4 separate regions of the Homo sapiens genome follow, and all the other regions are linked to region 2. The links come from fine-mapping of genetic effects on gene expression. A gene starts in region 2. Each other region holds a variant in brackets. All regions are shown on one strand. Distances are between the middles of the regions. Region 1 overlaps ODR4 (odr-4 GPCR localization factor homolog). Region 2 holds the start of ODR4 (odr-4 GPCR localization factor homolog). Region 3 overlaps PLA2G4A (phospholipase A2 group IVA). Region 4 overlaps PLA2G4A (phospholipase A2 group IVA).

The links. PIP is the estimated chance that this variant, and not a neighbour inherited with it, causes the effect.
Region 1: its variant is fine-mapped to the expression of ODR4 in whole blood (INTERVAL, PIP 0.91).
Region 3: its variant is fine-mapped to the expression of ODR4 in testis (GTEx, PIP above 0.99). The same link has a PIP of 0.9 or more in caudate, pituitary and subcutaneous fat.
Region 4: its variant is fine-mapped to the expression of ODR4 in testis (GTEx, PIP 0.99).

The regions. Positions count from the first base shown.
Region 1 is chr1:186,404,094-186,406,785 of GRCh38, reverse strand. ODR4 (odr-4 GPCR localization factor homolog) reads right to left here. Exons shown (of 14, transcript NM_017847.6): 12 at 518-703. Among named protein-coding and RNA genes, the nearest start is that of ODR4, 30 kb to the right of the region's middle. The variant T/C (reference allele first, on the strand shown) is at 1,506.
Region 2 is chr1:186,374,697-186,377,388 of GRCh38, reverse strand. ODR4 (odr-4 GPCR localization factor homolog) reads right to left here and starts at 1,551. Exons shown (of 14, transcript NM_017847.6): 1 at 1,415-1,551. TPR (translocated promoter region, nuclear basket protein) reads left to right here and starts at 2,136. Exons shown (of 51, transcript NM_003292.3): 1 at 2,136-2,511. The coding sequence starts at 2,361. RefSeq lists enhancers at 1,522-1,711, 1,882-1,931, 2,092-2,391.
Region 3 is chr1:186,889,051-186,891,742 of GRCh38, reverse strand. The region is part of intron 3 of PLA2G4A (phospholipase A2 group IVA); the gene reads right to left. Among named protein-coding and RNA genes, the nearest start is that of PLA2G4A, 61 kb to the right of the region's middle. The variant C/T (reference allele first, on the strand shown) is at 1,125.
Region 4 is chr1:186,916,494-186,919,185 of GRCh38, reverse strand. The region is part of intron 7 of PLA2G4A (phospholipase A2 group IVA); the gene reads right to left. Among named protein-coding and RNA genes, the nearest start is that of PLA2G4A, 89 kb to the right of the region's middle. The variant C/T (reference allele first, on the strand shown) is at 1,252.

The DNA of each region.
Region 1 (2,692 bases), 29 kb before region 2:
GTAAAGCAAATCTATGCTCTATAAAAGTCATCTAATTTCTGGAACTGCCCATTTTGGCTTAGTATCCCAATTACATGAAAGGTATATGAAAAAAAAAAGGCAAATAATATGGAGAAAATGTTTAATAAATTAGTGTTTTAAAACCTTCTGTTCTGACATGATGCTTTACCAAGTAAGATAATGAGTTTTGAGAAAACTTTTATATTGAAAGAAATACCTTAAAGCTTTGTAATTTTACCTACTTAATCCTGAACTTGTTTTATTAAGATCTACTTGCTAAGCTTGAAAAATACCTTAGTATCTTAAATTTTGGTACAATTTCCCAGGAAATACTCACTGTATGTCTAGACATGTAGAAATTAAACATGTATTTTAAAATGTCTCAGTTAATATTTCGAAGTGTCAAACAGAACTAGCTTTAAAAAAAATCTAAAGACATGATATTTAAACTAGACATCTCATAGGTAAAATCTTAGCTGTAATCTAACCAGGTTCTTAAATAGCATCATATAATGACCTGTGTTTGTTTCCTCTGCAATTTCCAAATCTTCTATTTGAATTGTGTGATCCAACATCTCCATAAAATGGTCCCTGATTTCTTCAGCTGACTCATCGTCAAATTTATAATCACACAACATTACAGTGGATCCAGGAAGGGGAACAAAGACTCGATAAGGGAGGACGTGGAACTCTTTTTCAGAATCTAAAAGGAAAAGAAATATTATCAATATTTAGATAGGTTTGTCACTGGTATCAGTGATACATATTTTAGAAGTACATACAAAAACTAATAGAAATAAAGCTTAAAAGGTCAATATTTTTTCATTTTCTGGTTGATCTGGCACAAAATTGCTCTTACCAAATTCTGCTTTACCTCAAAACCCCTGGTCTTTGCAAGGAACCTAAATGATACTCCTATGAAAAATAAACTTATCTCCAGGCGCGGTGGCTCATGCCTGTAATCCCAGCACTTTGGGAGGCTGAGGTGGGCAGATCACTTGAGGTCAGGAGTTGGAGACCAACGTGGCCAACATGGTGAAACCCCGTTTCTACTAAAAATACAAAAATTAGTCAGGCGTGGTGGCAGGTGCCTGTAATCCCAGCTACTCAGGAGGCTGAGGCAGGAGGATTTCTTGAACCGGGAGGTGGAGGTTGCGGTGAGCCAAGATCGCACCACTGCACTCCAGCCTGGGCAACAGAGCGAGACTCCATCTCAAAATAAAAATAAAAATAAAATAAACTTATCATTGCCTTCAATGTAAAGCTGTTGATTACACATTCTTATACGACCCACTGTCCTATGAAGAACACTCAAGAGACAATTTTGTCCTTGATGTCAGAAACTATTGTCCTTCTTGTCTGTTTTAGCCTCATAGGCACTGTACATTTTATAGTTGGTTTTTCTCTTCTTCATCCAAGTTTGGAGCCAAATTACTGGCCACCTTACATCTAGTGCACAGGATCTGATAGAATACATTTTTGTATTAATCTCCCCATGAATTTCA[T/C]CTTACTAGATGTAGCCCCCTTCCTATATATCAAGCATGTTTAGGACATCTAGTCATACATACAGTTTTGTGTACCTATCTCACTACCAACTCCATTTTGCTTTCTTTTTTTACCTTCCCTTTGACTCTTTATTACTAATATTTATTTTCACTTGTTTACTTATGCTTCTTTGTAAAAAGCCTTAAATCATTTTTAGAAAAAAATAAATCTAAATAAATAACAAATATCTCATTCTTCTGTGAATACTTACAAACTGGAATATATTATTTCCCCTAATTTCTAACATAGTCACTGTTGCATGTAAATATATAATTACTTTTTAGTTAAATGCTACGATCCTTATGAACTATCAGAAAGATAGAAATTTTGTGAAAAGAATGACCTCTTTCAGCAACAGATATGATTAAAAAGTTACTAATGTAAAGATCAAGTGGAAAACTAGGGCTTATTTTAATAGTAACCTAGACTTCGTTGTCAAGAAACTAGTGGTAACTTTACATAATTACAAACAGAAGATGACGAACAATGCCTTAAGTGTCACAGGAAATGCAATGGCTTAAACTACGTGTTCCTTCCAGATTCTGTGTATTATCTTGTTTGCACATGAGAACTGGGAGAGAAATTTTACTCTTTGACCAGACTGCCTCCTAGCTGTAGAAGAATATTACTGCAATTTGTACTGTAGCACGAAAATTGTCCACACATTGAAATTAGGACTATATTATTTTATTTTGAGCCACAGTTACTTGAAACAGATTAAGTAAAAACTCAAAAATGACTCTAATGTGCATGTGCAATTGGCATGCAAAATTTTAAAACCATTTCAAACTACATCAATTCTTGGTCTATCTGAAAAATAACAAGCTAAAAAAATCAAACGTTAAATAACTGGTTCCAATAAATTTAAATTACTCATTAAAAAGAAAAAGCACTACAACTTTCAAATTAAGAAGTTAAATTAGCAATTTAGTATCTAAGTAAGACTCGTTTTCTGTTGGTCTGAGGTTTAAATGGGAGGAGAAATCTTTTGGAAAAGACACATCTCAAAAAGCACTCCAAAGCAGAATCCTTTAGGAATATCCTCATGTCATAGTATCTAGTTCAACATTATCTGAATAAAGTCAAAACAAATAAAAAAATTTTAAAATTAAGCCAATATAATAAGAATTGGGTTTCTATTGGTTAA
Region 2 (2,692 bases):
TTTTTCTTTAGTGCTCTTTCAAAATTTTTAAATGTAGTCAACCATACTTTATAAAAGGCAGTACTAAAAATGTATATAGTCAGCTTTCCACATCTGTGGTTTCCACTTCCATGTATTCAACCAACCACAGATTGAAAAATTATTTTTTTAAAGCATGATTACATCTGTATCATTAAAGATGTTTTTTCTTGTCACTATTCCCTAAACAATATAATATAACAACTATAGCATTTACATTGTATTAGGTATTATAAGTAACTTAGAGATGATTTAAGATATGCAAATGCTACACCATTTAATATAAGGAACTGGAGCATCCATGGATTTCATATCCATGGGGTGGGCAGGTGAGAGGGTCCTGGAACCAATGCCCCACGGATACCAAGGGACAACTGTATTTTGCCTTATAGGGTCATAATTTTCCAGAAATGTTGTATATCAGCCAAAGCCTTTGTGGTCCAAGCACTGTGACTGACACAACTCAACCTTTCTGGGCTCTGGTTTCCTAATCTATAAAATAAAGCATTTGAATCCTAGCAGATCTGAAAACCTATCTAATTTTAGGATTCTGTGAATCTAAGTACAGAAAAATCTACATTTCCCAAATGACAGATCAACAGTATGATAATACTGTGGGCTTAGGACATAGCATAATACTTCATATACCAGCAACTTTAATTACAATGCTTATCTAAAAAATATTTTTGGGGAAAAATCAACCTTAAGCTCCGCTGTTGATTTATTTTTCCTTAGTTATTACAAAATATCATAAAATGCTTCCATTTATATTTCTTAGACGGCTTCACAACATGATTCAAAAGTAAGAACTAGAGAAAAAGAATAAATTTCATATAAGAACTAAATCACCAATTCACAGAAGGCCCACGACTGTGGGAACTGCAGAGAGACGACACTGGGAATGCATTATTTACAATGAATAATTTAACAAATTCTTTCATAAGAGTAAACACGAAACAATCTACGGATTGAGCTTTAAAACTACAGAATTATGATCTGGAACCATACAAGTTCTGTTACTGTAGAAATTAACAATGTGTTTAAAAACTTCAGTTACAACAGTTTTCAATTTTAAAAACAATATAATGTTAGGTAACCGTTTCTGCAACGAAAAATTTAAAACATAGGCTACACTCAAAGTGCTACCGGTTTCTTTTAATTCTCCTCCTGAAGAATTAACCCGGGTCCTTAAATTCCCGGGTACTGAATCACTCAGTGCCACCTCCCCACCACCAAAAACCATTTAGGTACGCCGTTTCACACAAGGTAAGTTCGTCAGAAGTGTGTGCCGGAGTGACTGTCCATATGGTTCCAACACTGTCCCTTCCTTTTTCTCTTGAAAAGAGAGCACACACACACACACACACACACACACACTACACTTAGGCTGACTTACCTGTTTTCAGAATGTGCACTCGTGGCAGACAATTACCTCGGACGGTCTCTCCGCCGGAGATGGGGGTTTCGGGCCCAAGTACCAGCCTCTAGGGGCCAGATTCCCTCCGGTCTCAATTCACTGCCACTGAATTCATCAGAAAGCGACCTACTTCCCACACCTCACTTCCCACTCCAAAGCCAGGGACTTGGGAGTCAGGTGGCGCAGATTGATGACGTAAAAGCCCCCCCTCCCTTCCCCGCAGAGCCTCAGCCAAAGCGACTGCGGTCGCCACCCCGCCCCCTTCTGGGCGCCATAGAGAGCGTGGCGGTATCCCGGAGCCTGCCGTCCGGCCCTACCGGGACCGATGCCCTCTAGTGGCTCAGTGTCCAGAAGCCGCCAACGAGGACGATCCATGGCATCCCGGGGCTTTGACGGTAAGGTCACCAGCTCTTCAGGGAGGGCCAAGGGGTGACGAGTACGTATGTGGCGCCACCGTGCGGACAGCGGTTACGGGGCCGAGATAGGAGAGCCAGGGGAGCGGGGAGAAAAACGGAAGCTGAGAGGGCGGTGCAGCATTGGGCTCCCGGAAAAGAATGAGAAAAACACTACATTTCCCAGAGCCCTACAAGGCCTGAAGTGGGTGGAGCTGGAAGCCGGAAAATTGGGTGCGCAAGAGGATCAGGGATAGCCTCTGAGCTCGGGTTCCCAGGGTTCGTAGCTTCCAACGGCTGCGCGCGCACTTCGGTCGCGGGCGGTGAGGTGCTGTTGCTGAAACGCTGCCGCTGAGGGTGGACTCGATTTCCCAGGGTCCCGCCGCGGGAGTCTCCGGCGGGCGGGCGCGCGCGAGCCACCGAGCGAGGTGATAGAGGCGGCGGCCCAGGCGTCTGGGTCCTGCTGGTCTTCGCCTTTCTTCTCCGCTTCTACCCCGTCGGCCGCTGCCACTGGGGTCCCTGGCCCCACCGACATGGCGGCGGTGTTGCAGCAAGTCCTGGAGCGCACGGAGCTGAACAAGCTGCCCAAGTCTGTCCAGAACAAACTTGAAAAGTTCCTTGCTGATCAGCAATCCGAGATCGATGGCCTGAAGGGGCGGCATGAGAAATTTAAGGTGGAGAGCGGTAAGTGAGATGCTCTTTCCGTCCTTGGTTTTGGGCTCGACTCCCGCCCTTTGGGTCTGGTCTTCCCCCATCAAGTTGGCACTGGGTACCGCTCTGTTAACCTCACTTCCTGGGCTCTGTGGATATCCTGAGCCTTCGCTTTCCTGCTCCTTACAGTTTGATAAGAAGCCTTTGAAAAAAA
Region 3 (2,692 bases), 510 kb before region 2:
TTTACAATAGCTAAGATTTAGAAGCAACCTAAGTGTCCATCAACAGATGAATGGGTAAATAAAATGTGTTACATATACACAATGGAGTGTTACTCAGCCATAAAGAAGAATGAGATCTCGCCATTTGCATGGATGGAACTGGAAGTCATTATCTTAAGTGAAATAAGCCAGGCACAGAAAGACAAACAGCACATATTCTCACTTATTTGTGGGATCTAAGAATCAAAACAGTTGAACCCATGGAGGGGGCAGAAGGATGATTACCAGAGGCTGGGAAGGGTAGTAGGGGGCTGGAGGGGAGGTGGGGATGGTTAATGGATACAAAAAAAACACAACAGAAAAATGAATAAGACTTGCTATTTGATAACACAACAGGGTGACGATAGTCAATAATAACCTAATTGTTCACTTAAAAGTAACTAAAAGAGTGTAATTGGATTATTTGCAACAAATCATAAATGCTTCAGAGGATGGATACCCTATTCTCCATGATGTGATTACTTTACACTGCATACCTATATCAAAACACTTCACTTACCCCATAAATATATACACCTACTATGTACCCATAAAAATTAAAAAGTAAAAGTAAAAAGTAAAAAAGAAAAAAAATTGAAAAATACTTTTTTTTAAAAAAAAGATTATATTTGTCAATGTTAGAAAAATCATCCTGCTTACTTTATCAGATAAAATAATGGAAGTCATTGTGAGAAGAATATTGTTTATTGTTATAGAGTTGCCTTGTATGGTTGTACAGGTTGTACACTGAACAACTTTAAGGGGTGGCACTCATATTAAAAATCAACATGTATTTATTATGGCAATATTCAGATGGAAATGAGGTGTCTCTATGAAGCAACAATTTTTTTCTTTTCCTTTTTTTTTTTTTTTGAGACAGAGTCTTGCTCTGTTGCCAGGCTGGAGTGCAGTGGCACAATCTCAGCTCACTGCAACCTCGGCCTCCTGGTTCAAGCAATTTTCGTGCCTCAGCCTCCAGAGTAGCTGGGATTACAGGCACATGCCACTATGCCCGGCTAATTTTTGTATATTCAGTAGAGACAGGGTTACACCATGTTGGCCAGGATGGTCTCGATCTCCTGACCTCCTGATCTGCCCGCCTCAGA[C/T]TCCCGAAGTGCTGGGATTACAGGCATGAGCCACCATGCCCGGCCAGTAACGGTTTTTTCTATTTCACATAAATACCCACTTGAATCAGGGTATGATATGTGTGCCCACTGAAATAGAACAAAACAATTGCAAATAAAGAAATTATTTTAATTTCCTCCCATTACATATACACTTAGCAACAAAGCGAGTGACCCAAACTGTGCAAGTATTGATCACTCCTTTTTTAGGATTCCACCGAATCCTTTAATGTCTTACAGCACTGGACACACTATACTTTATGGATGAAATTATACATCTATCTGTCTTTTCCTACAAGACTATAAACAACTTGAGGGCAAAGATCTTGTCTTCCTCAGCTGTACATCTTCAGAAGCTAACAACAGAAAGCGACAATTACAATATTTAAGGTTTCCTAACCTATCGACTTGACTTTCCCGTTTAACAGGTGCTTTTCCATGCGGCCATTATAATTAATAACAAAAACAACAAATAACTAAGTAATGACTACAGGGATCTGTGTTAAGTACTTTACACACATTAGTCTCATTTAAATCTCACAATCGCGCTATAATGTAAGTACTTTATTTTAGTGTTAAAGTAACAGGAACTGAGAAATATTAAGCATTCTGTCCAATATCACATAGCTAATAAGTATCAGGTCAAGTTCTTGAACCTGGGTCATTTGACTACAACAATCATTCTCTTATTACATCATGTTCCTCAGTAACAAAAATTAGATTACAGGGTATGGATTCTATGGAAAGAGGAGCTGGAATTAGAGGAAGAGAAAGAGAGGGTGAGTGCAAGAGTGAGGGAGGGAGGGGGGAGAGAAGAAGTACAGAGGTCTAAACAAAAAGATCCAACAGTTGAAAATAAAGGAAAAGCAAAAATAATAGTTTCTGACCTATTGATTGGGTTTCCCCCCCAAAAAAATTTAAATAGATGTTGTCTGTCAACAACAGCTATGGTCATCAAAAAACGTAATCAATGTCTTTCACTTAATTGTTCAGTATTGCTCCTAGTTCTTTATGTAGTCATCAGCTTCTTTAGATGCATGTGTATGTTTAGTGGTTGTTATTATAAAACGGGAGGATCTACAAACAAGGTATCAGCCTTTGAGGCTGCCTTTAATTTTCCGGCTTGGACCTTATACATCATTGGTAAAGAGCAGTGGGGCAAAAGTGAGAGTGCAACACAAATGCCCAGGGTTATTGTAAAAACATAGACCCCGACCTTCATCCCCGAAGACCCATTGTCTGCATATCTGTAGTGGAATTAAGGGCTTGCAATTTTTAACAAATAGTCTAGCTGACACTGATGTGGATCATCTTCTGGTCACACTTTTGATATCCTATTTTAGACAAAAGGGGAAAGCCAGTCATTCTCATTTCTAACTCAGTGCTTATAACTCTCAACAGGACCATGGAATACAAATTAGAGAACAAAAAGATTGAGTGGGAAGGATGATAAGGTGAAATGGGCCAAAGAAGAAGAGAACATGTCATAGGGTAACATTATCACATTTTCAACCAGGAGGTGACTGCTTCTTTTCCTTAACCATGTTTCT
Region 4 (2,692 bases), 540 kb before region 2:
ATTGGGAGCCTTTTGAATGGGGGCCTCTACAACAGCAAGCCTTTTGTAAGTTAAAGGAAAAACTTATGTCGGCCCCAGCCCTAGGACTACCAGATTTGACAAAGCCCTTTACACTCTATGTGTCAGAAAGAGAAAAAATGGCAGTTGGAGTTTTAACCCAGACTGTGGGGCCCTGGCCAAGGCCAGTGGCCTATCTCTCAAAACAACTAGATGGGTTTCCAAAGGCTGGCCACTATGTCTAAGGACCCTGGCAGCAACAGCCCTGTTAGCACAAGAAGCAGATAAACTAACCCTTGGGCAAAACCTGAATATAAAGGCCCCCCATGCTGTGGTAACTTTGATGACTACCGAAGGACATCATTGGCTAACAAATGCTAGATTAACCAAGTACCAAAGCTTGCCATGTGAAAATCCCCACATAACTATTGAAGTCTGTAACACCCTAAATCCCACCACCCTGCTCCCAGTATCAGAGAGCCCGGGCGAGCATAACTGTGTAGAGGTGTTGGACTCAGTCTATTCTAGCAGACCTGACCTTCGGGACCAGCCATGGGCATCATCAGTAGACTGGGAGTTATACATGGACGGGAGCAGCTTCATCAACTCACAAGGAGAAAGATGTGCAGGATATGCGGTGGTAACTTTGGATGCTGTCATTAAAGCCAAACTGTGGCTACAGGGCACTTCAGCCCAGAAGGCTGAGCTCATTGCTTTAACTCGGGCTGTAGAACTCAGTGAAGGTAAGACTGTAAACATCTACACTGACTCTGGATATGCCTCTCTAACCCTCCAAGTGCATGGAGCATTATATAAGGAAAAGGGCCTGTTAAACTCTGGGGGAAAGGACATAAAATATCAACAGTAAATTCTACAATTATTAGAGGCAGTGTGGAAACCTCAGAAGGTGGCAGTCATGCACTGCAGGGGACACCAGCGAGCCTCCACCTCAGTGGCCTTAAGAAACTCTCGACCTGATTCAGAAGCTCAAAAAGCAGCATCTACCCCTTACTGGGCATCGATAGCAGCCCCCTTACTCCCTCAAACACCTGACCTGGTACATACCTATTCTAAGGAAGAAAAAGACTTCTTCCACCCAGACAGGGGGCAAGTAATAAAAGGAGGATGAATCAGACTGCCAGATGGGAGGGTAGCTGTGCTGCAGTTGCTGGGAGCCACAGTCGTATTGGCCATGCACGAAACCACTCACCTAGGGCAAGAGTCACTTGAAGAATTGTTAGGCCGGTACTTCTA[C/T]GTCTCACACTTGCCAGCCTTTGCCAAAGCAGTAGCACAACTGTGCATTACATGCCGACAGCACAATGCGAGGCAAAGCCCCACTGTTTCGCCCCACATACAAGCTTATGGAGCAGCTCCTTTTGAGGATCTTCAGGTGGATTTCACAGAAATGCCAAAATGTGGAGGTAACAAGTATTTGCTGGTTCTTACGTGTACTTACTCTGGGTGGGTGGAGGCTTATCCAACACGAACTGAAAAGCCCTACAAGGTAACCCATGTGCTTCTCCAAGATCTTATTCCTAGGTTTGGACTGCCCTTATGAATCAGCTCAGATAACGGGCCGGCATTTGTGGCTCACTTGGTACGGAAGACAGCAAAGGCATTAGGAATCACTTGGAAGCTACATACCGCCTACTGACCTCAGAGTTCCGGAAAGGTGGAGCGAATGAATCGGACTATCAAAAATAGTTTAGGGAAAGTATGTCAGGAAACAGGATTAAAGTGGATACAGGCCCTTCCTATGGTATTGTTTAAAATTAGATGCACTCCTTCTAAGAAAACAGGATACTCCCCTTAAGAAATACTGTATCATAGGCCTCCTCCTATACTAGGAGAGCTTCCAGGCACTTCCCAAGAGTTAGGTGAATTGAATTACAGCGACAGCTACAGGCTTTAGGAAAAATTACACAAACAATCTCAACTTGGGTAAATGAGAGGTGTCCCATCAGCTTATTCTCCCCAGTTCACCCTTTCTCTCCAGGTGATCGCGTATGAATCAAGGACTGGAATGTAGCCCCTTTGCGGCCACGGTGGAAAGGACCTCAGACCATCATCCTGAACACCCCCACAGCTGTAAAGGTAGAAGGAATCCCACCCTGGATCCACCACAGCCGTGTGAAACCTGCAGCCGCTGAAACCTGGAAGGCAAAACCGAGCCCGGACAACCCCTGCAAAGTGACTCTGAGGAGGACGACAAGCCCTGCTCCAGTCACACCCAGAAGCTGACTGGTCTATGCACAGCCGAAGCATGAGGAAAATTATCATGGGATTCATTTTCCTTATAATTTGGACTTGTATAGTAGACACTTCCACTGATTTTCCCTGCATGGAGGACTGCTCTCAGTGTATACATCAGGTTACCGAGGTAGGGCAACAAGTTAAAACAATTATTCTGTTCTATAGTTACTATGAATGCCTAGGAACTTTAAAAGGAACATGTTTATATAATGACACTCAGTACAGGTATGTAGCCCAGGAAACGACAGACCAGATGTGTGTTATGACCCCTCTGAGCCTCCCATGTCCACTGTTTTTGAAATAAGATTAAGGACTGAAGACTGGTGGGGACTCATAAATGATACAAGTAAAGTATTAGCCAGAACAGAAGAAAAAGGGGTGCCCAAACGCATAATCTTGAAATTTGATGCCTGTGCTATCATTAATAGCAATAAGCTAGGAA